Homo sapiens: one gene and its partners. The protein of the gene in region 7 purifies or fractionates together with the protein of the main gene of each other region. This does not show direct contact. Each region holds a gene or a part of one and is shown on either strand. Other genes may lie near its edges.

Region 1 (4,326 bases), on a different chromosome or scaffold from region 7:
TGATCAATTATGCAAAGAATTTTGTTGAACTCAGCAATGACATTCCTTTCATTCCTGATCTCAATTAGTTTTTCTATTATGGCTAATTGACATTGCATATATACACACAATTAGGTTTAAAATTCAGTTTTTCAAGCTCTTTGTTCAGAAGACTTAGATTGGTTGGAATAGTCTTTTCATGTTTTTAAACATTTTGTAAACTATATAGATAATGACTTAAAAAATAAGCAATGTTTTTAATAGACATTGTTTTCAGCAACAAAATCATGGAACAATGGAAACATTTCCAAATACAGTTTTTCAAATGTTCTCCTCATAGTACAAGTAGTCTTTGAAAAGTGGTTGCTTTCTTACTCATTATTAAAGTGCTATCTTTATTTTGAAAAGACAGATTAAGTATGTTTTGTTTTTTGGAAAATATCTGCTAGGTAGCATGTACTACTGATAGTCATTGTCATAAATACATAAATAGTCAGTGGAGAATTCTTCTCTGTGTAAAAGGAAAATGCTTATCTTTAAATCCAACCCTTAAACACTTGGCCATAGGAGAAACCAGGAAACCAGAAGGTAATTGCCATTCACTTTCTCTTTACAAAGATTCTACTGTTTAAAGGTCTGGTTTTATTCTATAGAATGTATGTGGAAATGTTTCAGTGTGCAGAAGTGGAAGGAACATCCAACTGAGGGCACCACTCTTAATCCTTCTCTGTTGTGGAACTACTAGTTTTCTCTTTGTACCAGTTTGATATGTGGCTTGAAGGAAGGTGCCAGTGCCCATTTGTATATTAAATATAAGTACAACTTTTCAATCTAAATTTGGAAAATTTAATATAGAATGTCTCATTTTCCTCTCACATCCTTATGAATCATCTGATAATACTTTAGGATATATGCATCCAGTTTTGGAGATTACTACCTTAAACGTGGCATGAAGTGGAGGGAGAAATAGAGGCAAGGGGTTTGGGATTGTTCCATCATTGGAATAGACTGTCTAAAAATTTCATAAACTCCTTGTCCCTAGAAGTGGTTGAAATGGCAAAATGTTGAAAGGAGGAAATTCTATTTGGGGTGGGAAGTTGGATTTAATGACTCATTCCTTTTTAACTCTATGACTGTGCCTTTATTTTTGATTTTTAAATGGAATTTCTTTCATTAATCGATTCAGTACATTTATTGAGCTCTTAGCATGTGCCACTGTGAGGGGCTGGGGGATATAGCAGTGAACTAAACAAAGACCCTTTTCTTACAGGAGCTCAAGAAGATACACATTAACAATTTATTACACTGAGGCCTTTTATTTTATTTTTTTTTTGAGACAGGGTCTCACTCTGTCACCCAGACTGGAGTGCAGTGGCGTGATCTAGGCTTACTGCAGCCTCAACCTGCTAGGCTCAAGCGATCCTCCTACCTCTCCTCCCCTCCCTGCAGTAGCTGGGACTACAGGTGCATGCCACCACACCTGGCTACTTTTTGTATTTTTTGTAGAGACGGGATTTCGCCATGTTGCCCAGGCTGGTCTTGAACTCCTGGACTCAAGCAGTCTGCCCATGTCGGCCTCCCAAAGTGCTGGGATTACAGACGTGAGCCACCACGCCTGGCCACTGAGGCCTTTTAACTTCAGTTTAAGAATGTTTCGATTGCTGCTTATATTCTCTTGGTGTTTAATAAAATTATCTTCAGTTCAAGAAACATTGATTACTGATTATTTGTCAAAGGTCACCTGGAGACTAGAGTGTTACCTTCACTTTTTCTGTTTATATGCGTGAAACTCATTGATGATAATTGAAAGCAAAATACCCTTAAACAGAAGAATAAAAAGCTCTAAAGGACTCTATGGTGGGGCATTTATTTGCTGAGTAGTTCAGGTGTCTCCACTTTTAGTTTAAGAGTTATTTTCTCGTTAGCATAGTGGTGACTAAAAAAAAAAAAATACTTGATAGGACTGGTGAGGAAACACTTCATAGGACTGGTGTGGAAAATGTTGCTTGAGCCAAGTAGGTTGAGAATTTTTACTACTCATATACTATAGTAGCCTTGGATTTTCCCAGAATGACTGAATTTCAAGGTACCTTATGCTACAAGATATATGGGATTTTGCTCAAGTGGTTATAAGACTGGGCATAAATATAACCTATTTAAACATCTTATACTTAGGGAAATTATTTTGTAGCTTAGTGGTGCAATGTAAATTCTGGAACTGTTGACTCTCCAAAACTGTTAACATTTATCAGTTTTTTTCTTTTTTTCCTTTTCTTTCTTTAGAGACAGTCTCTGTTACCTAGGCTGGAGTACAGTGGTGTGATCAGCTCACTGCAGCCTCAAACTCATGGGTTCAAGCGATCCTCCAATCCAGCCTCCTGAGTAGGTGGGGACTACTGATGTACACCACCACACCCAGTTAATTTCTTTTAATTTTTGTAGAGACCGGATTTCACTATGTTGCCCAGGCTGATCTTGACCTCCTGGGCTCAAGTGATCCTCCCACCTCAGCCCCCCCCAGTTTCTGGAATTACAGGCATGAGCCACCGTACCAGGCCCCTTTAATATTACTCTTCACTGCTGTAATAAACCTTTTTGTATTTAGAGGTTTAACTTTATTTCAACTTCTCTGCCACAAAATTGGGACGAAAACTTGGTGTTTACTGAGAAGAGAGTTCCATCAAGTCCCGTTTCTCTCATAGTTGTCTAAGGTTGACAGTTTGCAGAAGCTAAGTCATTGCCTCCATATGTTTTAAACACTGTTAGGTTTTTAATAGTTCATTTTTACTATACAATTAATATATGCTCATTACAAAAAATTCAAACAGTAAAGAAATATATGAGGTATGAAGTAATAGAGCTTAATCCCATCTCTTCCAGAGATAACAATATGGTACAAAAGTTTCAAACTTTTAGTTGTGGAAATACTTAATACATGAAGCAAGCAGTTCTACTTACCTTTTGAAGTCTTTTATGATGGGCCATTTTTTTAATGGAATGTGTCAAACATTCTTAAAAAAAAAAAACTATGAAAAAATCTGAAAAACACAAGTAGAGGGAAGAACCTTGATGACCGTAACTTGTGGTACCTAGTTGATGGTGAAATAGGAAATTCTAGAGAAGGAGCAGGTTTTCTCCACTGTCTGGAGTTGGGAGTGGGAGGAGGAGATTGAGATTGGACAGAGAATAAGTTTTACTATATTGATTTTTGAGGGGGCTTTAGAATGTGGGGGCTTTAGATCCAGGTAGAGAAGCTCAGGAGGCACTGGGAATATACGTATAGGAAGATTGCAGTTGTAAAGATATGGGAGTTATCAGAGTATCAATAGTGAATAACAGTGGCAGGAGATGGAACTGCACAAAGTGCGTGGGTAGTAAGTAGATCAGCTTGAGAAACAAAAAAGGCCGAAGATGAAACTTAGATGAACTCCAACATTTTAAATTGTAAAGGATCAGAAAAAAGATTGAGAGAGTGAAGTGTTACAGAAGTCAAGGGAAGTTAGAATTTCAAAAAAGGTGAGTGGTCCTAGGAACTAGGTAGAGATGAGAATTCAATAAAGATGAGGACTAAATATTGTTTATTGCATTTGTCATTTTAATGGTGGTTACAAGCAGTTTCAGAGGAGCTGAGGGTTAGAAGGTCGCTTGTAGTTTGCAGTTTGAGCAGATAACTACCTTGACAGAGAAAATGGGGTTGATGGCTAGGGGGAACATGGAGCAAGGTTAGGGGTTTTAGTTTACTTTTGAAAATAATAATGATCATTTATTAAATACCTTCCATCTCTATATACTGTACTGTGTGGGTGCTTTTACATACATTATTTTACTCTAAATTGGGTACTAACTTTCTGTTTACTGTGAGGTTAAATAACTTACTCAAGCTTAGTATTAAACAGTGCAGCAAGGTTTGAAACCTGTCTTTCTGACTTTATATTTTTTTTTTGTACACCACACTGCCCCAGATTCAAGAAACTTGAGCTTCTCAGACATAACAGCACTGGGTTCACCTGGGAATTTGCTAACATTCAGGCTTCTGGCCCCTTCCATACAGATTTTGGCTCTAGAAATTCAAGAATCTGCATTTTTAATAAACATCCTAGGAGATTCTGATACATGTGATCCTTGACTGCATTTTTAAAAATACTTGCACTAAAGGAATGGAGAGTTTTTCCATTGCGTTTTAAAAGCTTGTTCTATGAGCCAGCCCCCAAACCAGTACTACGTTAAAAAAAATTATGATATGTTAACACATGATTTTGCTTAGCCTCCTGCAAAATCTTCCATGTGAAAATACATTTCTCTTTTTTGTGGGTTTCCGCAGTGATTAATTGAAGACCTTTTGCAAGT
Region 2 (4,326 bases), on a different chromosome or scaffold from region 7:
GGTCCCAGCTACTCGGGAGGCTGAGGCAGATGAATCACTTGGACCTGGGAGGAGGAGGGAGATTGCAGTGAGCCAAGATCGGACCACTGTACTCCAGCCTGGGCAACAGAGAGAGACTCCATCTCAAAAAAATAAAAATAAACATTCTTGTATTCCATCAAAGGAAAAAATAAATAAAAATCACTTATTTAAAATCTGATAAGTTAATAATTCATTTATAAGCTTAGCTCAAACTCTGAAATTATTAGTCATACTGAAATTTTTAAAAAGTAAACACACACATGAAAATCATCATGGTAGAAAAATGAGGTGATACATCTGTACTTGTGGTTGTATCACAAAATAATAATGACCCAATTTGTAACTGCTTTTCTTTTTAAACCAATGGATACGTTTCACCAAAACTAAGCTTTCTAGATTTTCAACATATAAAAACTGGTATTTATATTTGAACTTACATTCAAAAGATGATTCAAACTCCTCATTATCCTTAAAAGCTAGCTTGTCCACATCTGAAAATTCACTTTTGTCTTGAAGTTCAGTTTGTCTTCGATAAAGACTAGATTGGAAGGATAAAACTCGTGAAGTTTCAATAATGGAAAACCAAAGAGTACAAGGTGACAAAAAGCCTTTTGTGACTCAAGAAAAGGCTCTACAAAATTCCCTTTCTCTTTGTCTTGTAAATAGCTCCACCTCACCACCACCACTAGGCATTGTTCTCAGCAATTAATACCTGTTTAATCAGTTACTCCTTGTAACTATTTCATGCTGTGAAGTAGGTACTACAGTTGTTAATAAAGAATAATGTTGTACTCTGAATGCTATTCCTAGGAAATAACCATAAAACATTTCTGAAAAAAAATTCTGCACACTATCAGCATGAACCAGATGAAGATGCAACACCACAACCTTGAGTGAGCAAAGCGCCCTAACTCAGCATATGTGTGTGTCTTATCCTTCCTTTTGGCTTATCACAAAAAAAAAAAAAAAAAAAAAAAGCTTTAGGACTACGACAGGCCCATGTGGCAGAGAACTACATTAACATGCAGATGCCCGAGATCGAGCCTGGAGCTAAGGAGTCAGTTCCCTCTGCTGTGGGGCCCAGGTATGGGTAGGAGTCTGCTCATGACTCAAATCATAGCCTGGCTGACCCAGTGGACTAGTTTCTAAAAACATCCACTCCTTCCTGTTTCAACAATCATACACCAGAGCCTGCTACCACGTTTGAATTTATTTCAATGATATGCAGGTCAGAACCTTATCTGTTTATATTTCAATGCCAAAATATTTTAAAAATGACTTTTTAATGATGTGTAAAATTGTTCCAACTTTATAAATAACCTCCATTTGTTTGCTTTCAGATTTTGTACATTTGTTTTTTATCTTAATAAACCAAATCTATTCACAGAACTAGGAAGATGCTTATTAATACCAGATTGCATGGTCCATATATCAAGTTTAGCAAATAAGCATTATCCACTTATTTGCTAAAAGCAATCTTTTTCCCTCCAGGTAATTTAGATGATTCTCAAAGATGACATATCATTTTGCAATCTGATTGCAAATTCTATACTGCCACATGATCTATAATAATTATCTCAAAAAAAAAAAATCCCAGTAAAACAAGTGAAGGCTGACAGAGCAAGTAACATTATTCAGCTGAAGCTAATCAATCAGAACGTTATACTTACCCCACTTTCTGCTCCGGAGGGCTGGAGACAGGAGGGATGGAGAGGCTGTGCCTAGACTCAGTGGGTGATGGTAGGGGCATTCTGTCAGGACAAGGACTGGGGGAAGCAATGTGTGATCTGCCCAGACCTAAGGTGCAGAAAGAACCAAGGCAAGAATATTACCAATTGCACGGAGAAGATACCAACGTGGTTTCTAAAGAGCTCTACTAGTTTGAAAATAAACTGTTATCCTCACAAATAGCCAATTATGATGCATAAGATCCAGAAAACTAATGATTCAAGCACCTAAATTAAATTGCAGTGGCAATAATAAAATGCAGGAAACCAACAGGCAGCAAAGGCAAGGCAACTATCACTCTCTAAACAGCTCTGTGTGCCAAACACTAGACCTTGCCACTCTGGCCCGCTGACCCTCACGGCAACCCTGTGTCGTGGGCAGGGTGGCTACCCAACTCCAGAGCACCCCGCAACCCTTTGTGCGGGTGGCTTACCTTCCAGATACATTTCACTTTCGAGGCTTCTTTTTGCTTTTGGAAGGGGTGTGGAAGAGAGGCGTCTGGAGGAAGTGCCCCCGCGGAGCCTCGAGGCTGCACTGCCTGTCAGTGCTTCCACGACGTCATTCCTTTCTTCAAGTGTGCCCACTTGAGGCTGCTCAGAGACAACTCTGTCCTCTCCAAAAATATGTCTTTCCGGGGAACTGGAAGTAATGTTTTTGAAGGCTTCCAGCAAGTGCAGAGATGGTGGGCTCTTTGCTGCTAGTGGGCTTTTGGCAGAGTTTTTAATGACTCTCCGATGGTAACTTCTGAAAGCCTTTTCCAAGCGTTCGGCCTCTTGCTGAAGCTCTTTGACCCTTGCCTTAGTATTGGCTACAAACTCAAGGTCAGAATCAGGGGAACTACCCTCCACCCATGCAGTTGGATAATTTGTGATCCTTGATGCAACCATACGTGCTAGAACGTTTTCCTGTTTAAAAGGATTGTTCAAGAAATCCCCACTTATCTCACCATTGCAAGGCACCACATTGCCATTTATTAATCCATTGACAGAACGATCGATCACAGACTGCTTTGGATTGCAGTACACTTCATTCTCTAGGGCTGCAGGGTACAAAAAGCCAATTTCAGAAGTAAGTGGACAAGGCAGAGAAGAAAATATACTTGAGAATATTATTTTTTTGAAAAATGGAAGAGAGTAATAAGGACAAACTTGCACTATACAGTTTCTGAAGCCATGGTAACGATAACCACTAACATTTACTGAGAGCTTATTGTACCAGCTACAGCTTTGTATGTCTTTTGTAACATGATATAATTTCAGAATCCATTATGCACAATTTTGAAAGCCACAAGGCTCTGAGAACTGAAAATTTATTCATAATTTATTTGGTGGCAAAGCCCAACCAGACTTGAACTCATTTGGTTGAAAAGTTTGACCTGAACTGATGTAAACCCATTTATAATCTTTATTTATCCCAGCATGAATATTCATACAGTTGACTGCAAAATAATTAATGTGCTTTACTATAGGATGCTGTTCAGAACTCCCAGGGCTATTGCGAAATCCACAGCATATGGCCCGAGTTTCATATAAGGAAGTGAGGACCTGCATTCACAACAACACTGTGGTCAAGAAACTCTCACTGCTCCCATTTTACAGATGGGGGGACTAAAGCTTACTGAGGCTGGGTCACACGGTTAGCAAGTCTAAGAGCTACTGGGCTTTCCTAATGCAAAGCCAGTGCACCTGCCCCTCTCTCCTGCAATGCCTCCCCGTGATGCTACAAGAAAGAAGCTTGCCCTCGGCAACACATGCATGCGAAAGAGTTCTATCCTCATTCAACTATTTTTTATTGATAGGAGACTGCTATGATTTCAGCTGTGAGAAGTTTCACAAACAGAACTGAAAGAAAATGAGGAACAGAAAAAAGCAGAAACGAGTAGAGATAAAAATAAAACAAGTGCTGGTAGAAGAGAGCAAGGAGCTGATGAGGAAACAATGCAGGTGGGAACAAGGAAGGCTCAGACCCAGTTGAACTGGTAACACATACGTACTTTCTTTGAACTTGAAAGCAACTGAAGAATAAAGTATCTGAACTTTAATATCCTTCTTACGAAGTAGGAAGGGGCAGAGATGCATCCACAGTGAAGACACAATAATAAAATGATACCAATAACCATTTCCTGAGTGTCTTTTATGTCCCAGGCACTGGACTGAAACCCATTTCATCTTTTTCATCATGGCTCAGTAGGTATTATTATCCCCATTACAAATGAGGAGACTGAGGCCCAAGGAAGTTAAAGTAACATGCCCAAGGTCAAACAACTTCAAAACGGGTCCAAAAGAAGAACAGTTCTGATTCTGAAGGCAATATTCTTTTTGCTAAACCACCCTGCTTGTCCTGTATATTTATATATCTATCAAGGAATCCGTAAAACTACTGAATTGGTGTTAACATTGGGGTAACAAATAAAAAAGGAAATCCTATAATGAATATGGGGACTTCTATGTTACCACCACGCCTTTCCTATTGGGGCATGAGACTCTCCCAAGCCATGAGGCACCTATGAAGCAAAATACTTTTGCTGATGATCCAGATGGTATTACCAAAATGGATAGGGAGTTTTACTTCTAAGAT
Region 3 (4,326 bases), on a different chromosome or scaffold from region 7:
GCTATTTTCCTCTCCTCTGAACTTCTATATCTCAGAGTTTCTAACACACAATTTAGCCTCTGTTTATATGTCACCACATATAGTCTAATTATGATGCTTACCTCTCCAGGTGGTCTGGGAGCTCTTAGAGGACAGAAGCAAAGGCTGAATCTCCTGCTCCTTTCTCCCAAAGCTCTGCCCAGCCTAATCCCACCACAGAGACCCAAAACCTAAGACTATGGCTGAGCTAAGAGGCTGCCCTCAATAAGGCCAGATGAAGGAAGGCAAGGAAGCCCTATGAGGCAGATGTGGAGTGGGGAGGCCTTACCGCCATGACACACTTTGGGCACCGCCAGACACCCTTGGGGATCTCAGGCAGAGGAGGCAGCAGGCAGAAGATGTGGTAGTTGTCATCACAGCCATCACACAGCAGGAGCTTGTCATCCTCATCCCCTCGAGAACACATCCGGCAGACATATGACTCAATCTGCCAGGGGAGAAGAGCAAAAGTTCTCCATTGGAAATCCACTGTGTTTGCTGGCTGAATGATTTACAGCCCTGTATAGGCTAGTCATGCTAGGTCTGGAGCTCAACTGCACGTATGTACCATCTCCCCAAATAAGCAGGTAGAGCTGCAAGAGCAGTCTTTTATCATCCAGTCTTGAATCCTCCCATTTTTATTCATCCAATAAACACTTACTAAACCCGTATTCAGAACTACGCTGGACTCTAGCACAAAGACAAGACATGGTATCCTTCCAAGTATATACAGTACTCTAGAGACATGTGTTCATAAAAATTAAAAATTGCCAATAGCGGTCCATAAAGGGCACTGTGGGAGCCTAGAGAAGGAAGCACTCAAAGCAGCTGGAGATAAGGAGGGATGGCCTTGAGAAAGGACTTCATTGAAAAGGTAACACCTGAAACTGGCTGAAACCTGAAGGCAAAACAAAACATGGCAACAGGGCAGAGCACAGGGGGAATCTCTTCCAGGCTGAAGAAACAACATGTGCAAAGGATAGGGATGAAAGAGCATACTGCATCTTACGGGGAAAAATGAACATACCTACAAGGAGTTCAGTGTGGCTATAGCAGAGGAGTGAGGTGGGCAGTGCTGGGGGATGAGGCTAGAGGTCAGCAGGGACTGGATCATGCATGGTAATGAGGAGCTTAGCCTTTATCCTGAAGCAATGGAGAGTGAGACTCCTTCTCTGGACCCTTCCAGCACTTCATGTTGACAGCACTTGATCACCCTTTCTTGCTCTTTGTTCCATATGAGTTGGCTTTGTTTCCCCAATTAAGTGAGCTACCTGAGGGCAGGGCCCATGGAGGCCCGCTTTTGTGGTTAATGCGAACTGGTCCAGTGCCATGCAGGGGAATGCTTATTGAAGGGACAAGAAGCAGAGCATTAAGAAGTCAGGGCTGGGTCCTTACAAACTGGGCATTGCTGTGGTTCCTCCGTAGCCTCATGGTCATCTTGGTGCAGGGTTCTGGGCTGTGACTCAGCTCCTCCTTGCTCTCCAGGAAGGTCTTAGGCGATGTTGACTCCACCTTCACATCCCCACCTAACTCCTCCTTCACCACTACTGTGGGGGGACACTCAGGCCCCTCCTTATCTGGGAGAGAGAAAAATGGCTGTAAACACAGGTCTAGGACACTTAGGGCCCTGACTTTTCTCCCCAGGTGAGGCCACCCCAGCCTGTTAGGCCTTACCTTTCTTCCGCAGAGTCTTGTCTTTGGCCATGAGGCCCAGGCCCATCATCTTGGGGCCTGCCCCATAGATCTGTAGCTTTTTCAGCTCTGGATTCTTCTCAATGTCTTCCTCTGTGGGTTCCGGCTGGAAGGAAAGAAGGAAATGAATCAAGACTGCTATCTGGGGCAGACTGTCCCATCCTAAAAGAACAGTAACTCGGACTACATATCACCTGATCTCATGCTGAGGGCTGAGGCACAGATGGGCTAAGCCAAGAACTCAGAGTTGCTTTTTGGAGACTGAGGGTAGGTGAGCTGCCCCCTCGGCCCTCTCTCAGAAAGGAATAAAAGACAGGATATCTCAGTTTTCCCAACTGTAAAATGAGAATATTACCTCCTCCCTTATAGTTATGAGGGGGGTTAGGGACAATACATATGAAAAAGCTAACAGTGTTTGGCATTACCAACAAATGGCAGTCTAATAGGATCTGCTAAATTACATGCTTCGATGAGCCCAGGGACAGTGTCCATCTTGTTCTCTATTGTATTCCCAGTGCCAAGAATGCCTGGCACATAAGCTTCTGCCTGAAGACATAGCTACAAGGAGCTGGGAACAGTGGTACACACCTGTAGTCCTAGCTACTCCAGAGGCTGAGGTGAGAGGATCACTCAAGCCTAGGAGTTCAAGATTATAGTGCATTATGATCAAGCCTGTGAATAGCCACTGTACTCCAGTCTGGGCGACATAGCAAGACCCTATGCCTCAAAACAAAACAAAACAAAAGATACAGGTATAAAGAGAAAGAAGAGTTCTACTTCTATGAGCAGAGTAAGTCCGGAAAGGAACAAAACAGGCAAGAAGAGCAGACATACAAAAGAGGTTGCACAAACAGATCAAGACCCAGCTCAGCAGCTCAGCTGAGAGGGGAGAAAAAAGCAAGAGTGAAGCCAGAGAGAGGCACACTAATGCTCAGAAGAACTCAGAGAACAAAAGAAGGGATAATGGAACAGGGAACACAGCCTTAGCCAGAAGGAAGGAGAGGACTCCCTCCACCTCAAAGCTCTAAGTTCGAAGAAGGGGAGTACTCACATCAGGCTGCAGTCTCTTGGCCCGCCGGCCATAGCTGTTGAACTTGGAAGGCTGCACAGACTGTCGTAGGGGGATGCTGTGGGGTTTGTATTCCTTGTCCTTCTCCTCATTATCAAATGGACGTGTGTTACACTGCTGGGGACAGGTAAGGGGTAAGGGTCAGGACATGGACTCCAGCCCGCAAAAGCAATAACTTCCCTCTACCCTCACCCAATGGCATCCAAAGCTGTGGTCCACTCACCTGACCCACACCAACAGCCCCTGTTCCACTGGTCTTTAGCACTGACACCAGCACACATTTTGGGAATTCTCAGTACCTTTGCTTGTATCACTCCTCCCTTCCAGTCACTTCCTCCACCAACCATCTCCCCAACTAAATCAGACGCCATCTCTTCCCACACCTTCTAGCCCAAGCTCTCCCTTCTCTGATTTCTCTATCAGTTAAAACTTTGTCACATAACAAATAAGCTAGCCGTACAGATAACTCCAGGACCTCTGACCCTGAGCAGTGTAGAAAGAGAATAAGCATCACTAGGAAAGAGCAGAGTCCAACTCCCAGGTCTCCAGTCCACTAAACCAGTTTCATTAAGAGCAAGTGTGGAAATCTGTGCTGAAGGGTAAAGCCGCACCCTGCCCCACTGTGACATCCTTACCACAAGGTTGGCTCCAGACTGGTACATTTCATAGGGATAAACAATGCGTTCGTAGTGGGAGCGTAGCAAGGAGCCAATATTTTTGCCTGGTGGATAGTTGAGGCGCTGGGCTACCCGAGCCCACCGACGGTCCTTGCAGATAGCTTCATAACCACCTTCCTCCACCACAATCTGAAAAAACAAGTAGGAAAAGACATGGATGTGCCACGTGTATTTATATGTGAGGGAGTAGGCCTGTAGAAAGGGCAAAAGGGCAATGAGGGCAACTCTAGTCCCTCACTTCACTGGGGGCTATCCCCTTATCCCAACCTCAAATTGCAGCAAAAGATTCCAAGATGTTCTGATGACAGCTTGTGTGCTACCAAGCTGTGCCCCTTCCATTGCAGCCTAAAGATCTAATATCCAAACTAAGGGGGCCCCCAGAGTATCAAGGATATTGGGGTTTGGTGGGAGGGGTGCTTGACAAAAACCTGTTCTTACTTTGCTGAGACTGTAGAGGTCCAAGATCCGCCGTTCTACATTGGGAATCTTTAAGGAGGAGCCCTGGATTTCCCAGAATTTGGCAATCTGGTCCAAGTAGTTCAGTTTCACTCTCGTCTGGGCCTGAAGAAGAAATGGCTCAAAGAGGCTGGCCACCCCCTCCCACTGACCACTATCTTTGGGTCCAGTCTTAGGGGAGAACAGAGGAATACAGCACTCCACACTTTCACTACCCAGGGTTTCTCCCAATGAACCGGATCCCAGACTCTAGGCAGTGCTTAGCCCCACCTCACTCTCATTTCTTTCGTTTTTGTTTTTTTGAGACGGTCTTGCTCTGTCGCCCAAGCTGGAATGGAGTGGTGCAATCACGGCTGACTGTAGACTTGACCTCCTGGGCTCAAGTGATCCTCCTGCCTCAGCCTCCTGAGTAGC
Region 4 (4,326 bases), on a different chromosome or scaffold from region 7:
TGGACCACTGTATTTTAAAGCAGAAATCTCCAACTTTATGAAATTCTCCTCCCACCAAAAAAGTCTACCAATTTGAGATAAGAAAACATAACAAAACATAATGTCATGCAACCCCTCACTTTGAAGGGTGGGCCATGAAGACACTGTCACTAGCAGTATGAGGACTGAAGTGGTAAAGCCACCTGAGGACAGAAGTTGGATTAGATGAGCCTTCTTGTAAAATCCCTACTAGCCTCATATTTGGTTGGGGTGACCAAACCCAATAAATGTAGTGTTGCTCTTTCCTCAAACTGGGGCCCCAGGCACTGGCAAGCAGGTAGTCAGCAAGCTTTATGAATGACATAACATATGGTACTACTAAGAACTTACTATGTAAGTATGTTGCATTACATAATTGGCCATGGGCAACTCTGAGTAAATAGATACCAGAGCTCCTCATCAGATACTTACAGATCTTGACTCTGTTTCATTCGGTGAAAGTCCTTCAGGATACCCATCATGTCTGCAAAGCTGCTGGCCTTGGACAAAGAGACGCAGTCATCCTCTTCAGACGAACTGCAGGCAGCTTTGTGTTCTGGTTTGCAACATTCAGGGCTGGCAGAACAAAGCAGGGGGACTGATGGAAGCTCAGGGACCTCCACCTCTGTCTCCTCGGTGATGTCACTAATGACAAAGGAAGTTGTAGAGTGGAATGAGGATCCAAAACAAGGTAAGGGAGAAGAGACATTTGAACTTCCTGGAGATAAGAAATCTGGCGTTAATGAAGCCGAAGCTGAAAGAGAAAACAATAGGCATGGGTGGACATTGGGGCTAGAACACAGTAGCAATATCTTCTCCCCACAGCCCTGCCTACTGAACATTCATTTCCTGGGCTGACACCATGACAATCTGGGAGAGCCAGGATGGTATCTGTAGCCAGTGGAGGGTCATTCCACTATGCTTCTCACTCGGGGGCTCAGAAAGCTGTAGAAGCACTGGGCTTTTCCAGTGTTCCAGGAAGGCAGGAAAACCCAGCCCCATAATGGCCTTGGCATTTAAAAGCTCCCATTCCACAATAGGCTGTGGAGTGACAGCCCTGTCATAGGCCAAAGCAGCAGAGATAAGAGCTAAGGCCTGAATTTGTCCTTTTCTCTAACTAGACTAGTGCTTTTGACTATGCTCCTTTGAAATCTTGCTATCTGTGAACTAGAAGACATGTTCTGAGCAAAACCAGAATGGTAACAGACCTCCCAACCTCCCCAAATTTCAGTGGAGAGAATTTCCTCAGTTTTTACATTTCTAAAAATACTTTAAAAACACTAAATACACTAAAAACTATGTTTCTAAAAAAGATGTTACTTCTGCTTGTCTCTTGGATGACAAAAAAGTAGCCAAGAAATAACAAAGTTTCAGTACAATTCTTCATAAAACTTCCATGTGAAGAAATTAAATACATGAAGATTTCAAAGAACACCATGATTTTCATGTGTCCTACCAAATGATAAATTTCAGAGCTATGACTCTGAGTCAATGCAGAGTGAAAAAATGAGGATGGGAGGAATATGAAGATAAGCCCTGAGCATCTTGGGAGCGATCCACCTGTTGGCTGTCCATGCCTCTGGTTAAGGCAGGCTTCCCATCCATTTCCAGTGGTTCTGCCTTAACTGTAGACAGAAAGCTGGAGGGGTGGGTTACAGGGCTTGTTTGCATAATAGACCACTGTTTTTTTTTTTTCTTTTTTTGAGACGGAGTCTCACTCTGTCGCCCATGCTGGAGTGCAGTGGTGCAACTTCAGCTCATTGCAACCTCCACCTCTGCCTCCACCTCCACCTTCCAGGTTCAAGGCACATGCTGCGATGCCCAGCTAATTTTTGTATTTTTTATAGAGACAGGGTTTCACCATGTTGGCCAGGCTGGTCTCGAACTCCTGACCTCAGGTGATCCACCCACCTCAGCCTTCCAAAGTGTTGGGATTACAGGCGTAAGCCACAGTGCCCGACCACTGTATTTTAAGGCCAAGATCTCCAACTTTATGAAATTCTCCTTCCACCAAAAAAGTCCACCAATTTGAGATAAGAAAACATAACATAATGTCATGAAACTCCCCACTTTGAAGGGTGGGGCATGGGGACAATGTCACTAGCAGTATAAGAACTGAAGTGGTAAAGCCACTTGTGATTCCTGGTAGAAACAACAAGGCAAGGGAAGATAGGTGCTTAAAAAGGGTAAGTCTCAGTGGTGGTGGGGGGAATGTTTACTTCTTGTATTGAAAAGGAAAGCAGGGCGCGGTGGCTCATGGTTGTAATCCTAGCATTTTGGGAGGCTGAGGCAAGTGGATTGCTTGAGCTCAGGAGTTTGAGACCAGCCTGGGCAATGGCGAAACCCTATCTCTACTAAAAATACAAAAAATTAGCTGGGCATGGTGGCATGCGCCTATAATCCCAGCTACTCGGGAGGCAGAGGCACGAGAACTGCTTGAACCCAGGAGGTGGAGGTTGCAGTGAGCCAAGATCGTGCCACCGCACTCCAACCTGGGTGACAGAATGAGACTCTTGTTTCAACCGCGGGCACAGTGGCTCATGCCTATAATCTTAGCACTTTGGAAGGCCGAGCTGGGTGGATTGCTTGAGGCCAGGAGTTTGAGACCAGCCTGATTAATGTGGCAAAACCCCGTCTCTACTAAAAATAAAAAAATTAGCCAGGTGTGGTGGTGCACACCCGTAATTCCAGCTACTCAGGAGGCTGAGGCACGAGAATCGCTTGAGCCTGGGAGGCAGAGGTTGCAGTGAGCCAAGATTGCGCCACTGCACTCCAGCCTGGGCAACAGAGCAAGAACCAGGACCCTGTCTCCAAAAAAAGGAAAACTGGCTGGGCTCGGTGGCTCACACCTATAATCCCAGCACTTTGAGAGGCTGAGGTGGGTGGGTCATCTGAGGTCAGGAATACAAGACCAGCCTGGCCAACATGGTGGAACTCTGTCTCTACTAAAAATATAAAAATTAGCCAGGCCTGGTGGCACACCCCTGTAGTCCCAGCTACTCAGGAGGCTGAGGCAGGAGAATCGCTTGCACCTGGGAGGCAGAGTGCAGTGAACTAAGATCGTGCCACTGCACTTCCAGCCTGGGCGACAGAGCAAGACTCACTCAGAGGAGAAAAAAAAAAAGCTACTGTGGGCTTATGTAAGATGTGATCTTAAAGACACTTAGAAGAGGGTATCAGTTTGGGGGCTAAGGGAGGGACTCTGCCTGGGGTCACAGGTTAATATTTTGTTCTTAACCAAACCATTCAGCCCAAAATGGCTGGTAGAAACCATCTAAGAGGCACTACTGGCTAGCCAGGCTTCAGGACAACCCCAGGGCCCGGAACCTAAGTACCTGCAAACCAAGGATTACCACTTTCTTTACCCCTATCCTGCCCAAGAGCCAGGGGAAAGGAACAGCCTGTTACGTTCTGGCCCTGGCACAGGGGCTCCTACCTGCATCAGCTGCCACTATCTTTGCAATCTGGCTGCGCAAGTGGCTCAGCTCGTCCTGCAGCTCAGTAGTGCGGCTTAGGGCTGGCAGAGCTGGCTTCTTCAGGGCCAGAAGCCTCTCCTCGGACCCACGCAGGTTGGGAACAGAGGCATTGCGCTGCATGACAATCAGAGGGCTGGGTTTCCAGGTGTGCCTCAGGGGGCGCGTATCACTCCTGGACCAGGGAAAACCAAGTAGATCAGTTAGAGACAGCAGGCCACTGTGCTCCTAAGGTTCCTTCCCCCACTTCTGTGAGAGTAGTATAGTAAGGTTCTGCTCCTCTCTGAGCCCACAGTTCTCATTCCTCTCTCCTTGCTGCCTGCCACCTCTTCTGGGAAGTTCTCCATTCCTTAGCAGACCAGCTACTGCCTCAACTACCTGACCCGGGCATATGTCTCCTCTTCATCCGCAGCAATCCAGGCGATGTCAGCCAGGGTAGGGACTGGGGGCACATCTCTCAAACACAGGTCAGAGATGTTGGGCAGGGTCTATGGAGAAGCAAAAGTCATCAACATTTACAGATGCCATGATGAGCCAATCAGAAACTGCAGAATACACAGGAGGGGTACCTAATCCGGCACTGGGTGTCAGGAAGGCTTCCTAGAGGGGGCAGAAGAAGGTTCCTGGTCGAAAACATTGAACAGAGGCCAGATGACAGTCAGGCATGGTGGCTCACACCTGTAATCCCAGCATTTGGGAGGCCGAGGCAGGCAGAATGCTTGAGACCAAGAGTTTGAGATCAGCCTGGGCAACATGGCAAAACCCTGCCTCTACCAAAAAATACAAAAATTATCTGGGTATGGTGGTATACGCCTGTAGTCCCAGCTATTCAGGA
Region 5 (4,326 bases), on a different chromosome or scaffold from region 7:
TCAGTGACCCACTTGAGGAGGCAGTCTGTCTGTTCTCAGATCTCCAGCTGTGTGCTGGGAGAACCACTACTCTCTTCAAAGATGTCAGACAGGGACATTTAAGTCTGCAGACGTTTCTGCTGCCTTGTTTGGCTATGCCCTGCCCCCAGAGGTGGAGTCTACAGAGGTAGGCCAGCCTCCTTGAGCTGTGGTGGGCTGCACCCAGTTTGAGCTTCCTGGCTGCTTTGTTTACCTACTCAAGCCTGGGCAATGGCAGGCGCCCCTCCCCCAGCCTCGCTGCCGCATTGCAGTTTGATCTCACACTGTTGTGCTAGCAGTGAGCGAGGCTCCATGGGTGTAGGACCCTCCAAGCCAGGCGCGGGATATAATCTCCTGGTGTGCCGTTTGCTAAGACCATTGGAAAAGCACAGTATTAGGGTGGGAGTGACCTGATTTTCCAGGTGCCATCTGTCACCCCTTTCTTTGACTAGGAAAGGGAATTCCCTGACCCCTTGCACTTCCCAGGTGAGGTGATGCCCCGCCCTGCTTCAGCTCATGCTCAGTGCACTGTACCCACTGTCTTGCACCCACTTTCCGATACTCCCCAGTGAGATGAATCTGGTACCTCAGTTGGAAATGCAGAAATCATGTGTCTTCTGCAATGCTCACGCTGGGAGCTTTAGACTGGAGCTGTTCCTATTCAGCCGTCTTGTCTCCATCCCTATTTATTAGTTCTAATAGGTTTTTTTTGTGGAATCTTTAGAATTTTCTACATATATGATCATATCATCTGTGAACAGAGATAATTTTACTTCTTTTTTTCCAGTTTGGATGCCTTTATTTGTTTTTCTTCCCTAATTGCTCTGTCTAGAACCTCCAGTACTATATGTAACAGAAGTATTAGGCTGGTGCAAAAGTAATTTCGGTTTTTGCCATTACTTTAAAAAAAAAATGGCAAAAACTGCGATTACTTTTGCACCAACCTAATAGCATCCTTTCATTGTTCCTGATCTTTGTGGAAAAGCTTTCAGTCTTACTGCTTTGAGTATGACATTTACTTTGGGTTTTTTGTATATGGCTTTTACTATGGTGAGATAGTTTCCTTCTATTCATATTAGTTGTGTGTTTTATGAAAAGAAGTTAAATTTAATCAAATGCTTTTTCTGTTTTCATTTGAAATGATCATGTGGTTTCTTCTCCATTCTGTTAAGGTGGTGTATTGCATTGTTCGATTTTGTATGTTGAATCAACCTTGCATTCCAGGAATACATTCCAGTTGGTCATAGTGTATAACCTGTTACAATCCTGTTGAAGTGAGTGTGCTATATTTTGTTGAGGATTTTTGTATCAATGTTCATAAGGGATATTGGTCTTAGTTGTTTTGTGGTAACTTTGTCTGGCTTTGATATCAGAATAATGCCTCTTAAAATGAGTGTGGAAGTGTTCTCTTTTCTTCAGTGTTTTAGAAAATTTGAGAAGTTGAATCAAGATATTTTAATCTTTTTTTTTCCTTTTTGTGGAGTGTATGTTCCCAGATAGCCATTCACATGGTTGGCCCCATTATATCATTTAGACTTCAGTAAAATGTCTTTTGGGCCTTCTTGAATGTCAATCTAAAGTAGCTTCTCAGTCGTTCTCTATCAGTAGCTCTCTATTGTTGTCCTCATAGCAATTTTCACAGACATTTTCCTGTGTTATCCTATTTTCTATCAAATTATCCCGTTGCTTATAGATAGAATATAAGCTTGAGAGCAGTCCCTAATCATTTAGAATTTTTATGGTTGATTCTGTTACATAGGCATGATTGATTAAGTCTTTGGACATTTGTGCTTAACTAAATCTCTACCCCCTCTCTCCTTGCAGCCCTCCCGTAAGTCAGGGGTCAGGCAGAAATTTCCAAACATCTAATCACTTGGTTGGTTTTTTCGGCAACCAGCTCCCATCCTGAAGCTATCTAGGCTCCCACCAAGAGTCACCTGATCAGTATAAATTCTGGTATGGTTGAAAGGAGCTTATTATGAATGACAAAAGACAGCCCCTCTCACTCTTGTGAGAGGGTGAGAAAACAAAGATAAAATATCTTGATTCAACTTCTCACTCACTCAGTCAATTCACAGGGTCTTAGGAGATTTTGTGCCAAGAACCTACAAAGACCAAATATTTCCTGTGATTTCATAATATCACACTACCTTACAAGGTTGTTTTAAGAATAAATGAGAGAATGCATGCATAACTCTTAGCACATTGCCTGGTACAGATAGCAGTGGCTCTACTGCTACAACTGTTAAGAAGATTTTCTTTCTTTCCCATCCGTCTCTTCCTCGGCCTTCTCTACTCTCCCCTTTTTCCCTCCTCTGATAGTCTTTGCTTGTGTTTCCATTTTCCTAATCTTTCTCTGACGTTTTTTCTTCTGAGTTCTCAATATTAGGTCAGAAGTCCAGAACTTGGAAGGGTTAGGAGTGGCATTGGTGTAGGAGCTTCTCGCAGAAGATTCATTGCAAGCCTCCCTCCCTCATTTACTTTCCTTTATGTAAAGCTGTTGGTTTCATTTTCATCAAGAATCTGAAATATCTCAGGGGAAGTATCTGAATTTACTTTTTCAGAACAGATATTAGCTGTGATAGTGCCCTCCCAGTATTAGAAGATGTGGGAAATCACTATTATGATTCCTTATATCAGGCTGATTCTTGAGATATGTTGTTTGCTTTAGGAATGATACTGATAATTTTTTTTTTTTTTTGAGATGGAGTCTCGCTGTGTCGCCCAGGCTGGCATGCAGTGATGTGATCTCAGCTCACTGCAACCTCTGCCTCCCAGGTTCAAGTGACTCTCCTGCCTCAGCCTCCTGAGTAGCTGGGATTACAAGTGCACGCCATCACGCCTGGCTAATTTTTGTATTTTTAGTAGAGACGAGGTTTCACCATGTGGGCCAGGCTGGTTTTGAACTCCTGACCTCAAGTGATCTGCTCGCCTCAGCCTCCCAAAGTGCTGGGATTACAGGTGTGAGCCACCACGCCCTGCTGATACTGATAATCTTAAAGAGAGAAATTTGATCATCCTTTCATTAGTAAAATGTGTAATAAGAAAGCTTATTGTGGGAAGAAGAGGTTCTCGATTATTTACCCCTTTAGCATTTTCCTGGAGGTTTAGCGGTCATTAGAAAGAAGTACTTGTGGCTAGGCATGGTGGCTCACACCTATAATCCCAACACTTTGGGAAGCTGAGGAAGGAGAATTGTTTGAAGCAAAGAGTTCAAGACCAGCCCGGGCAACATAGCGAGATCCCCATCTCTACAAAAATAAAAATAAGTTAGCCTATTGGGTTGGCATGTGCCTGTAGTTCTAGCTACTCGGGAAGCTGAGGTGGGAGCATGCCTTGAGCCCAGGAATTTTAGGCTGCAGTGAGCTATCATCACACCACTGCACTGTAGCCTGGGCAACAGAGTGGGGTCTCTTAAAAAAAAACACACACACACACACGGAAAGACATACTTGTTACTAGTGCTCTTTCGTAAGATTTTATCTAACGTGGCATTTTAATTATGGTTTTAAAAATATTTCTTTCCAGTTAATAGAAGATGAAATTGCAACCATTCTTAAATCTACATTGAAAGGACTAGAATATTTGCACTTTATGAGAAAAATACACAGAGATATAAAAGCTGGAAATATTCTCCTCAATACAGAAGGACATGCAAAATTGGCAGATTTTGGAGTGGCTGGTCAGTTAACAGTAAGTTAACTTTAATGGTTTTCTAAACACTTGGCTAATTTGTTCAGATTTGATTATAACTAAACTTCAATTACTTTTTGAGGGGGAATGGAAAGAAATGTGTAGTTTTTTAATTTTTGTGGAGAAGGAACCATAATTGAGCCAAATTTGAGTATTATTTAATTTATAATTTAGGGTGATTGAATGTGAAAATATATCTTATAATCAAAATGCTTAAATGTTCTAAAAGGGAAGCTACGTAGCTCATTTCTGTAGCTTTTATCATTGTAGCACTATCTTTAATGACTGTGTTTAATGATGGTAGTGTGGATAAGTTACCTGTGGACTCTTGGTTATTTTCAGAATTCGGAATTCCTAAGTATGTCATAACTAGTTGAAATTTTAGCAAAATAGTCAATTTCTGATATAATCTGTGGCATTGGAGGTTTTAACATTTTTTAAAAGTATGTTTGGCATACAGATTTCCTTTGTGCTTTTGTAGTAGCATTTATGGCTATGTAACATTATTGCAGGATACAATGGCAAAACGCAATACTGTAATAGGAACTCCATTTTGGATGGCTCCTGAGGTGATTCAAGAAATAGGCTATAACTGTGTGGCCGACATCTGGTCCC
Region 6 (4,326 bases), on a different chromosome or scaffold from region 7:
TCACGGAGCCAAGAGAGGGCCCCACAAATAAGACTTAAGGACTTCCCCTGCAGGAAGAAAAATGATCTTTAGAAACAGGAAAACAACAAAGCCTCCCAAATGACCTTTCCCCATTTTAATAAAAGCTTGAAAGAAGGTCTGGCTGTACATAGGAGAGGATGCTCTAAGACCAGCCTAGGAAAGGAAAGGAAGGAAATTAGCACTAGAATAGCCAGGAAAAACAGAAAAAAGAAAGAAATGGAAACTGGGCCCAAGAAGCAGGAAAAAGCTTCTTTAATTATCCAGCTCACTGTTCTGAAAACAAATTTGAAGCAGTTTATCAGATTCTATGTAAATATCGCACATAATTAGAAGAAGGGGAGACATTAGACAAAAAGTCCCCTAAAAGAATTAAGGCCCCAAAATGCTGAGCAAGAAATCCCAGGTACTCGCCAACAGGGAGCCAGAGTGACCGCGCGGCCTTCGTGCAGCTCGTGCGTGGATACAGGATGATCAGTCATGAGCGCCAGTGCTTACGGTTTGTGTTTTGTTTTGTTTTTTTTTTTTTAAGCAAACTAATCACTCTGGAAGACACCACTCTGTCTGTTTTTGAGAGGAGGTCTTGCTATGTTGCCCAGGCTGGTATGGAACTCCTGGGCTCACACAGTTCTCTGGCCTCAGCCTCCCAAGTGGCTGGGACCATAGGTGTGCGCCTCCATATACAGACTGGAGAACACTACCCTTGACTTAAGACCAGAATTTTCCATAAGCCTGATTGAGTTGTATTCCTCCAAATTCCTGTGTTGAAATCCTAACCCCCAGCATCTCAGAATGTGGCCTGATCTGGAAATAGGACTGTCGCAAATGTAATTAGTTAAGATGAGACTACTAGGACGGGACCCAGCCTAAAGGGCTAATATCCTTATTGGAAAGGGGACACGTGGATGCAGACATGCACAGAAGGCAGGCGATGTGATGATACCCAAGGAGAACACGCCACCTATAAGCCAAGGAAAGGGGCCTGAAGAGATCTTTCCCTCACGACCCTCAGAAGGGACCAAGCATGCTGACACCTTGATCTCGGACTCCAGCCTCCAGCGCTGTGGGATGTCAGTTTCTGTTGTTTAAGCCCCAGTTTGTGAAGCTTTCCTCTAGCAGCCCCAGGGAACCAATACAGTTCTTCCAGAGAGGACCCTTCAGGGAGCGCCACAAGGAGGCGGCCCTGGTGTCCACAGGGGAACTCAGCTCAGGGGAGTCTCTGGAGGACCCCATGCCTTCTGCTCCAGGCAGTCAGCTCTCTGAGCCTGCTGAACCCAGAGGGGATCTCAGAGTATCCAGGGCGGGGTGAAACACCTCGTATGACTACGGTTGGGGCAGCAGCGCGGCGCAGGAGTCAGAGTCTCAAACTCCACAGCCAGGTGCCAGGGTTCCAGCTGTCTCCCCCACCTGCAGCTCTGTGGCTCAGGCTGGCCTCACTACGCTTGTTTCCACGAGTGCAGAAATGGAAATGACAACAGCGGCACCTTCCTCATAGAGCTGGTGCAAGCAGGACATTAACACACACAAAAGGCCAAATCCTCTGGATTAGAGGATTACCTGGCAAATAACAAGTGAGCGGTTGGAGTTAGCTAACTTTTTGCTATCATTAAGTAATAATAATAAAATTATTAATAGCATTATTCTGGAATATGGGATCTATTAGTTTTCATCAAAATCTTGAAAGGCCCTGGGATAGGATAGAATGACATTGTTGACAAATGGATGGATCCCATATTTTTAGGAAAGCCCCATATGTACCATTTCCCTCAGCTTTTGATAGAAAGTAAATGGCAAAGAGTTCCAGGCAGCATTTCCCAGCAGCACCTGGAGGGCGGCTCTTCTGTGCTGTCTGTGATATCGGAAGCAGTCAGCTTCAGCTGTCACTGGGCTGGGAGACACAATGGTTAGAAAGCCAGTGCCCTCCATTTGAAAGTGAGCTGAGGAAGTTCCTAAGGGTATGGTCAAAGTTATCTTTCAAAAACAACCGTGGTATACTCCGGCACAACAGCAAAAGAATAACTGAGGCCCACTGTTTTCTACATCGTGTAATAAGACCACAAAACTTTTAGACTGGAAAATGTTAAAAGGATTTATAACCAAAGGCTCACCTTCCTGGGGTATCATCAACAGTTACATGATTTATGCCAAGATAAGCAAATTCATTCACTCTGAACACCTGCTGGTTGCAGCAAGCATGGGGCTCAGAGCTGAGGACACAAAGGTGCAGAGCCCCTAGAAAATGCTCACAGGTTCACATGTAACATACAATTCGAGGGCATCATAGATCCCCGCAAAGCATGCATTCCAGGTTGGATGACTCCCGGAACTGCAGTATTACACAAGGCACAGCACACACCAAGTGGTAATGGTGACTCAACTTGATAGACCTGTATAAGGCTTAAAAGGTGACTATCAAGGATAAACAGCATCTGGGGCAGCTAAGGTGGGGCACCTGTGCATCCACGGCGGGGAAGGGCATGGTAGGCACAACAGGTAACACAAACCCCACTCAGGGTGTCCCACAGCATGGCTGCTTCTATGGGCTGCGGGACACCCAGGACAGGAGAAAACACTCTATTCAGGAGATGATTTAGAAGACAGAAGAATGTCAAAGGTAATAAAGCCACAGGGTACATTCACAGAGACTGCACACAAGAAGATGAAGCTATAGAACCAGAAACATCGACAATTAAAGGCTGAGCAGAGGAAGAAGACGCAGAAGCCTGGAGTGCAGAAGACTGAGATGGAAAGACCTGAGAGGGAGAAGATGGGTTGTCAGGCTAAACAAGGTGAAAGGGGTCAGGTACAGTGGCTCATGCCTGTAATCTCAGCACTATGGGAGGCCAAGGAGGGAGGATTGCTTGAGCCTAGGGGTTTAAGACCACCGGCCTGAGCAGCATAGTGAGATCTCATTTCTACAAATTAAAAAATTAGCTAGGTGTGATGGTGCACACCTGTAGTCCCAGCTGCTCAGGAGGCTGACGTGGGAAGATCACTTGTTGCCAGAAGGTTGAGGCTGCAGTAAACCATGATCTTAACACTGCACTCGGCCCTGGGCAACAGAGCAACACCCTGTCTCTAAAATTAAACAAGGCAGAATGAACATGCACTCATCTGTGTTCCAAAGCACACTAAAATTAACCAAAGTAATATGGAGGCTTACACCCACAAAAAGAAAGTGGAAGGAGTAATATGTTTTAGGAGAGAGGGAAAGAAGGCAGAGACATGGAAGTGATTTCGGCAGAGACACTCAAGCCCAAGTGTCCCCAGAGATCTCCCCCACTCATTCTCAGAAAGACTCAGGAAGTGGTAGGAACACAGCAGGCCACTGAAAACAAAGGGACGGGTTGAAATTCTTTTTAAGAACAATTAGATTCTCAGGTTGCAATCCCTGCTCCTGCTCCTTGCAGAAGACAGGAAGTGGGCTCTAAGTGGAAGCTGAGCTAGGAGAGCCCTGGAGGCAACCGGCAGATTGAGGAGGCAAGAGGGAGGGGGAGGAGGGCCAGGCTGAAAGCAGGCACTGAGGGGGACTCTCCACCTGGATCCCCTTCCCCAGACCACCTCCCGGAAGACCGGCTATTGGGCTTCAGCGTCTGTACCTGCTGGGCCAGGGCTCAGAGGCACCTGCTCTGGAGAGACTGAAGACTCTAGGGAAAATCCCACAGATGTGCTGGCAACTGGAGGCCCCCAACAAAGGAGCCCAGCCTGGCAGCCACAGCCAGTGCCCTGCAGACTCAGCCTTTCTGTGCCCTGTTCTTCAGCATACACAGGCAGTCCAGGGCTGCCAGACGTTTGAGGAAAGCCTCCAAACGGACGTATACCCTGATGTGGTGTGGGTGCGGCCGTCTGTCCCCATTAACACTCATGCTGAAATCTGTCAAGTCAGTCTGAGGAGCAACTAATTCAAATGACAGGGAAAGGATGGAGGATTCCAGGAGGGCTCCAAGGTAAAAATGGAATTGGTCACTGCTGTGGACTGAATTGTATCCCCACCAAAATGCATGTTAAAAAAATGTTTTTAAAGAACAAAAACAAAACAAAAGAAGCTGTGTATGGTGGTGTGCACCAGTAATCTTGGATCTTGCCAGCCACCAGGTACTTGGGAGGCTGAGAGGGGAGGATCGCTTGAGTTCGAGACCAGCCTGGGCCACATAGTGAGACTGCCCATCTTAACAAACAAACATATGTTGAAATCCTAACCCCGCCATGTGACTCTACTACAGATCTGGCCTTCAAGGGTAAAGGAGGTCATAACGGAGCAGCCATAAGGGAGCAGCCCTTGTCCTCATAAAAGAGAAAGAGACACCA
Region 7 (4,326 bases):
AACAGAGAGTTCAGAGCAGATGTTATTAAGTTTGAACATGGTGGTCAGGGAAGGCCATACTGAGATGACGATCACTAAGCAAAGGCTTGAACAAAGTGAGGGAGTGAGCCCTGTGAGTATCTGGTGTACGTGTTCTAGATCCAAGGAACAGCATGTGTGTTTGAGGCATAGCAAGGAGGCCAGTGTAGAGCGCAGAGGTAGGTGGGTAGAAAAATCAGAGAGCAGCCAGGTCATGCAGGCTTCCTAGGTCATGATAAAGCCTTTGGCTTTGACGCTGAATTCTATGAGGCACCACTAGAAGATTCTGAGCACAGGAATGACAGGCCCTCACGTAAGTTCAAAAAGGATCACTCTGGCTGCTGTGTTTAGAACAGAAAGGTGGATGCAGGAAGCGCAGTTTTCTTTCATAGAAGCAATCTCTAAATAACTATTCAACAAGTATGAAACTCTTACATATGAATACATAGAATAATCCCACAAGCTCAGGATAATGTAACAATTGCCAAGAAGGAAATAAATGCACAATGAAGGAATCCTAAAAAACAGTCAGATGAGTTCAATGATTGCCTTCCTAGGCTTTCCACCTCTGATGGATCTTCTACACCAATTCTGGTGATATTCTCTCCTCCTACTCCCATTTAAAGGTGCCAGTCTTTACTGAGCATGTCCTTTGTACCAGGCCCTGTATAAGTGGGTTTGAGGACACAAGGGAGAAAAACACCGAGGAGTGTGACAAACACCTGCTGCCCTGGGCAGTCTTTCTAAACCAGCATGTCTTTCCCCCAGTTAGAATCCTTCAGTGGTACACCCCAGGTATTTAGGCTAAAGTCCACAATGCTTAGTACAAAGTTAAACGCTTTCAGCCAGGTCTCAACTAGTTTTCCTAGGTTTGTTATCTAGAAATGTGTTCCAGCCATTTGGAGCTACCTGTAATTCTTAGAATGAGTCATTCTGTGCCGTATCTCAATGCTTTTGCACATCCTGTGCTTGCCTCCAACTACTATTCATTTAAAATCAAATGGAAGCCCCAGTTCCCACAGAAGGCCTCCCGTGACATCAACAAGGACAGGCCACTTATGTACCATAATTTCATTATTTACTTACTCATCTCTCTAGACCCCCAGGAGCTCTTGAGAAACAAAAACGCTTTTTTTTTTTTTTTTAACAATTTTTGTATTTTCAGGAACTAGCATAAAATTGATACATTCATCCACTCCCATATTTATAAAATATGTACTATACACTGAGGTCTATTCTAGGTTTTAAGGACACAATGATAAATAAGGCACAATCCTGACCCTTATTCTGCTCAGAGTTTGAGAGATATAGACAAACAGGAAACTTCAATAACCTATCCTGATGGGCTACAGTAGGATTCGGGGTGCTGTGCAGCTTATGGGAATGGCGCAGGGGTTAGGGAAGCCTTTCTGGAGGAAGTGGCCTCTCTTGAAGAATGAGTAGGAGATACACAGTTGTTCAATGAATGCCTGTTCCCCTAGCCTCACGCCCTTCAGGGGACAAAATTAAAGGACTGACTGAGGCCCTGAAAGCTAGGGGTAGAAAGCTGAAGGCAGATCACCCCTGCTGATCTGGGGAGGCAGCTGGAGGTTGTGAGGAGGCTCCTCGACGTGGCAGCTGTTCCATCACTGCCACAAAGTTCCTCCAAAGTCAACATGGGCAGGGGACAAAGGTTCTCAAACCAGGCTCTTGCCCTGCTCCCCAAATTGAAAACAAAGTTGAATGACAGGCTTTTCTCAAGTTTTTCTCCCATTAATCCAACTCTCTCAGACCTCTGCTGCCTCTTACATATCTAGATCAGAATCTAGTAATTGATTGGGCATAACTATATTTAGCTATAAGTATAGTCATCCACTCACGTATTTATTAACCATGTACTATATACACTGAGGTCTGTTCTAGGTTTTGGGCCACAACAATAAGTAAGGTACAATCCTGACCCTTATTCTACTCTGAGTTTGAGAGATACAGACAAACAATTAAACAGGAAATTTCAATAAACTATCCTGATGGGCTACAGCAGGATTCAGGGTGCTGTGCAGCACATGGGAATGGTGCAGAGGTTAAGGAAGCCTTCCTGGAGGAAGTGGCCTCTATGGAAGAGTAAGCTTAACTATACTTCAATAACATACTTAGCTATTTTGAATCTAATATGTTGAGATTTTACTATAATCTGTAAAAATCATACTGACACCATACGCTGGGCCTCCTCAACACATTTGAGGACTACTGGACTGAGAAAGCAGCACAGTTTCTATCAGAATCCTGGCTGTGTTGCCCCAAGTCTGTGAACTTGGGCAAGTTACTTAATCTTTCTGGCCTCAGTTTCTTTACCTGCAGGAAAGGAAATTGACAGATTTATCTTGCAAAATTGTTCAGTGAAGAGTAAATGAGGTACAAGAAAAGATTAAATAATGCAGCAGGGAGTAAAACTTTCTTTTCTATATTCCTCTCCTTTCCCAGTTAAGTCTGGGTATTTTCTTCATGCAATGACCTTTTCAGTGCTGCTCTGAATTTTCACCCATGGGCAGACACTGGACAAGGTCTGCATGGTATGACTTACCAAAACCCCGTATCTGCCCTTTATTTAAGTTTGGGTCCCCCAGAAGCAGATTCTGAAGCTCTGACTTCAAGTAGTTTATTTGGGAAGTGATGCCAGGAAGCACTAGAAAGAGTGGAGAAGACAGAGGTGGAAGGGAAGAAAGCCAACCTGGAGTAGGCTAATAGGCAGGTTATCCCTATGGGCAATTGGGGTTCAAATCTTCTGGGGACTCCAGTAAACCATCTAGAAACTACCCCAGAGCTGTCTCAACCAAGGGCACGAGTGCTGGGGTATTAATCCATCAATTGCTGTTGGTCACTATTTGGGGACTCCCCAGTATTCCTGCCCAGAGAAAGCCCTCAGGCATGGAATCTCATCTACACGTAGGCAAAAGCTTTGGCATGTAAGGGAATGGGGGGCTTCAAGGGGCTATAGATAGGGCACCAACAGAAATTATGGCTGGGGAAAGGAAATTAGAAAAGCTTGCTATGAAGTACAGGGCAGGAGAAATAAATTAACAAACTTGGTGCTTTCTATTAGGAAGACATAAGAAATCAGGACCAATTAAAAGAGCAGTAGCAGCCAGGTAATTAAAGTGCTAGAGGAAAATCTGGCATAGTGATGAATGCAGAGGTCAGTAGACCTAACCAATGAAGACTGCATGTGAGACTCCAAAGTCTGGAGGACTTTGTGTTGCAACTTCCATCTTTGCCTTCCCAACTCCTCCAGATTTCAGCTTAAATGGCACCTGCTCAAAGAAGCATTCCCACCCAGGATACCACCACAGGCCCCATGCCCAGATTTGCACATCCATTACCTAACAATGCCTGGCACATAACAGGACTCTATAAATATTTGCCAAATGTATTTATTAGCCCTCTTCATTCAAATGGTGAATGTGCTAATTCTTTATTAGTGTGAATGGCTAACCCTTATTAACCAATTAACGACTATGTGCACAGCACTGTTGGCATATGGAGGGGATGAGGCTGAAGACAAAAACCCAGAGCAGAAGGGAATGTCCTCTATCAGTATAGCTGTAGTCTCTGGGAGATGGGGGCTGGGGCTTCAAGAAAACATGCAACTATGATAAAAGAGACAAGGTCACACAATCAGTAAGTGGCAGAGGGGGAATTTAAACTCAGGTCTGATTTCAAATCATGCCCTTTCCATCCTAGTGGGTTCTAATATTCTATGCTCTCCTCTGTTGTAAGTACAAATTTTGAAAAGGTGAGAATTAAACCCGGACTTGCTATGGAAACAGAAATCAATCAGGGCTAGGGAGTGAGTGGAGGAGGAGAGAGAAAATAAAACAAAGATGCTATCAATGGGTTCACCACCAAATGGAAGGAGCAAGGTCCTAGAAAACACACATACTCAGCTAGCAGCCAAGTACCCAGTGCTCTTACTCAGCTGACCACAGAATGACACTAATCCTAGGGGCCCCGGGTGGGGGTACCACAGCCTGATATGGGCTGCTGTCCCAGCAGATGGGGCAGAAGTTTGTCTTTAATAGCTGCTCTAGCAATAGGCATCCAGGCTGTGATATGCTTAATCTAATTTTCCTTGCCATATTTAATTCTCAAAACATTAGCCATCTGTTTCCTGAATTCATGATGAAACTGCTGCCTGGTCTGTTTGCAGAGAGCGGAAGGAAAAATCCAGAGGTCTTTTCTCCACTTGTCTCTGCTAAATCCAGCAAGGCTGTAGCTGCATACCAGACCCACATTAAAAGACATAATTACTGAGCCCAAGGTCTCCAGTCT

The links.
Region 1: the proteins of SKP2 (region 7) and ATG2B purify together in Homo sapiens (affinity purification with mass spectrometry; 2 studies listed by BioGRID and IntAct, with this or other methods). This does not show direct contact.
Region 2: the proteins of SKP2 (region 7) and OFD1 purify together in Homo sapiens (affinity purification with mass spectrometry; 2 studies listed by BioGRID and IntAct, with this or other methods). This does not show direct contact.
Region 3: the proteins of SKP2 (region 7) and KDM5C purify together in Homo sapiens (affinity purification with mass spectrometry; 2 studies listed by BioGRID and IntAct, with this or other methods). This does not show direct contact.
Region 4: the proteins of SKP2 (region 7) and MTFR1L purify together in Homo sapiens (affinity purification with mass spectrometry; 2 studies listed by BioGRID and IntAct, with this or other methods). This does not show direct contact.
Region 5: the proteins of SKP2 (region 7) and STK3 purify together in Homo sapiens (affinity purification with mass spectrometry; 2 studies listed by BioGRID and IntAct, with this or other methods). This does not show direct contact.
Region 6: the proteins of SKP2 (region 7) and DDX11 purify together in Homo sapiens (affinity purification with mass spectrometry; 2 studies listed by BioGRID and IntAct, with this or other methods). This does not show direct contact.

The regions. Positions count from the first base shown.
Region 1 is NC_000014.9:96,356,364-96,360,689, reverse strand, and holds part of ATG2B (autophagy-related protein 2 homolog B), read left to right. Parts: intron 1-4,326. UniProt on the Homo sapiens protein: Lipid transfer protein required for both autophagosome formation and regulation of lipid droplet morphology and dispersion.
Region 2 is NC_000023.11:13,758,577-13,762,902, reverse strand, and holds part of OFD1 (centriole and centriolar satellite protein OFD1), read right to left. Parts: intron 2,789-4,326; coding exon 2,183-2,788; intron 1,819-2,182; coding exon 1,692-1,818; intron 560-1,691; coding exon 459-559; intron 1-458. UniProt on the Homo sapiens protein: Component of the centrioles controlling mother and daughter centrioles length. Recruits to the centriole IFT88 and centriole distal appendage-specific proteins including CEP164. Involved in the biogenesis of the cilium, a centriole-associated function.
Region 3 is NC_000023.11:53,214,382-53,218,707, forward strand, and holds part of KDM5C (lysine-specific demethylase 5C), read right to left. Parts: intron 4,018-4,326; coding exon 3,895-4,017; intron 3,586-3,894; coding exon 3,415-3,585; intron 2,897-3,414; coding exon 2,762-2,896; intron 1,817-2,761; coding exon 1,693-1,816; intron 1,596-1,692; coding exon 1,414-1,595; intron 467-1,413; coding exon 308-466; intron 1-307. UniProt on the Homo sapiens protein: Histone demethylase that specifically demethylates 'Lys-4' of histone H3, thereby playing a central role in histone code. Does not demethylate histone H3 'Lys-9', H3 'Lys-27', H3 'Lys-36', H3 'Lys-79' or H4 'Lys-20'.
Region 4 is NC_000001.11:25,825,955-25,830,280, reverse strand, and holds part of MTFR1L (mitochondrial fission regulator 1-like), read right to left. Parts: intron 3,980-4,326; coding exon 3,870-3,979; intron 3,667-3,869; coding exon 3,455-3,666; intron 773-3,454; coding exon 451-772; intron 1-450. UniProt on the Homo sapiens protein: Mitochondrial protein required for adaptation of miochondrial dynamics to metabolic changes. Regulates mitochondrial morphology at steady state and mediates AMPK-dependent stress-induced mitochondrial fragmentation via the control of OPA1 levels.
Region 5 is NC_000008.11:98,706,532-98,710,857, reverse strand, and holds part of STK3 (serine/threonine-protein kinase 3), read left to right. Parts: intron 1-3,546; coding exon 3,547-3,711; intron 3,712-4,223; coding exon 4,224-4,326. UniProt on the Homo sapiens protein: Stress-activated, pro-apoptotic kinase which, following caspase-cleavage, enters the nucleus and induces chromatin condensation followed by internucleosomal DNA fragmentation.
Region 6 is NC_000012.12:31,079,534-31,083,859, reverse strand, and holds part of DDX11 (ATP-dependent DNA helicase DDX11), read right to left. Parts: intron 48-4,326; coding exon 1-47. UniProt on the Homo sapiens protein: DNA-dependent ATPase and ATP-dependent DNA helicase that participates in various functions in genomic stability, including DNA replication, DNA repair and heterochromatin organization as well as in ribosomal RNA synthesis.
Region 7 is NC_000005.10:36,158,130-36,162,455, reverse strand, and holds part of SKP2 (S-phase kinase-associated protein 2), read right to left. Parts: intron 1-4,326. UniProt on the Homo sapiens protein: Substrate recognition component of a SCF (SKP1-CUL1-F-box protein) E3 ubiquitin-protein ligase complex which mediates the ubiquitination and subsequent proteasomal degradation of target proteins involved in cell cycle progression, signal transduction and transcription.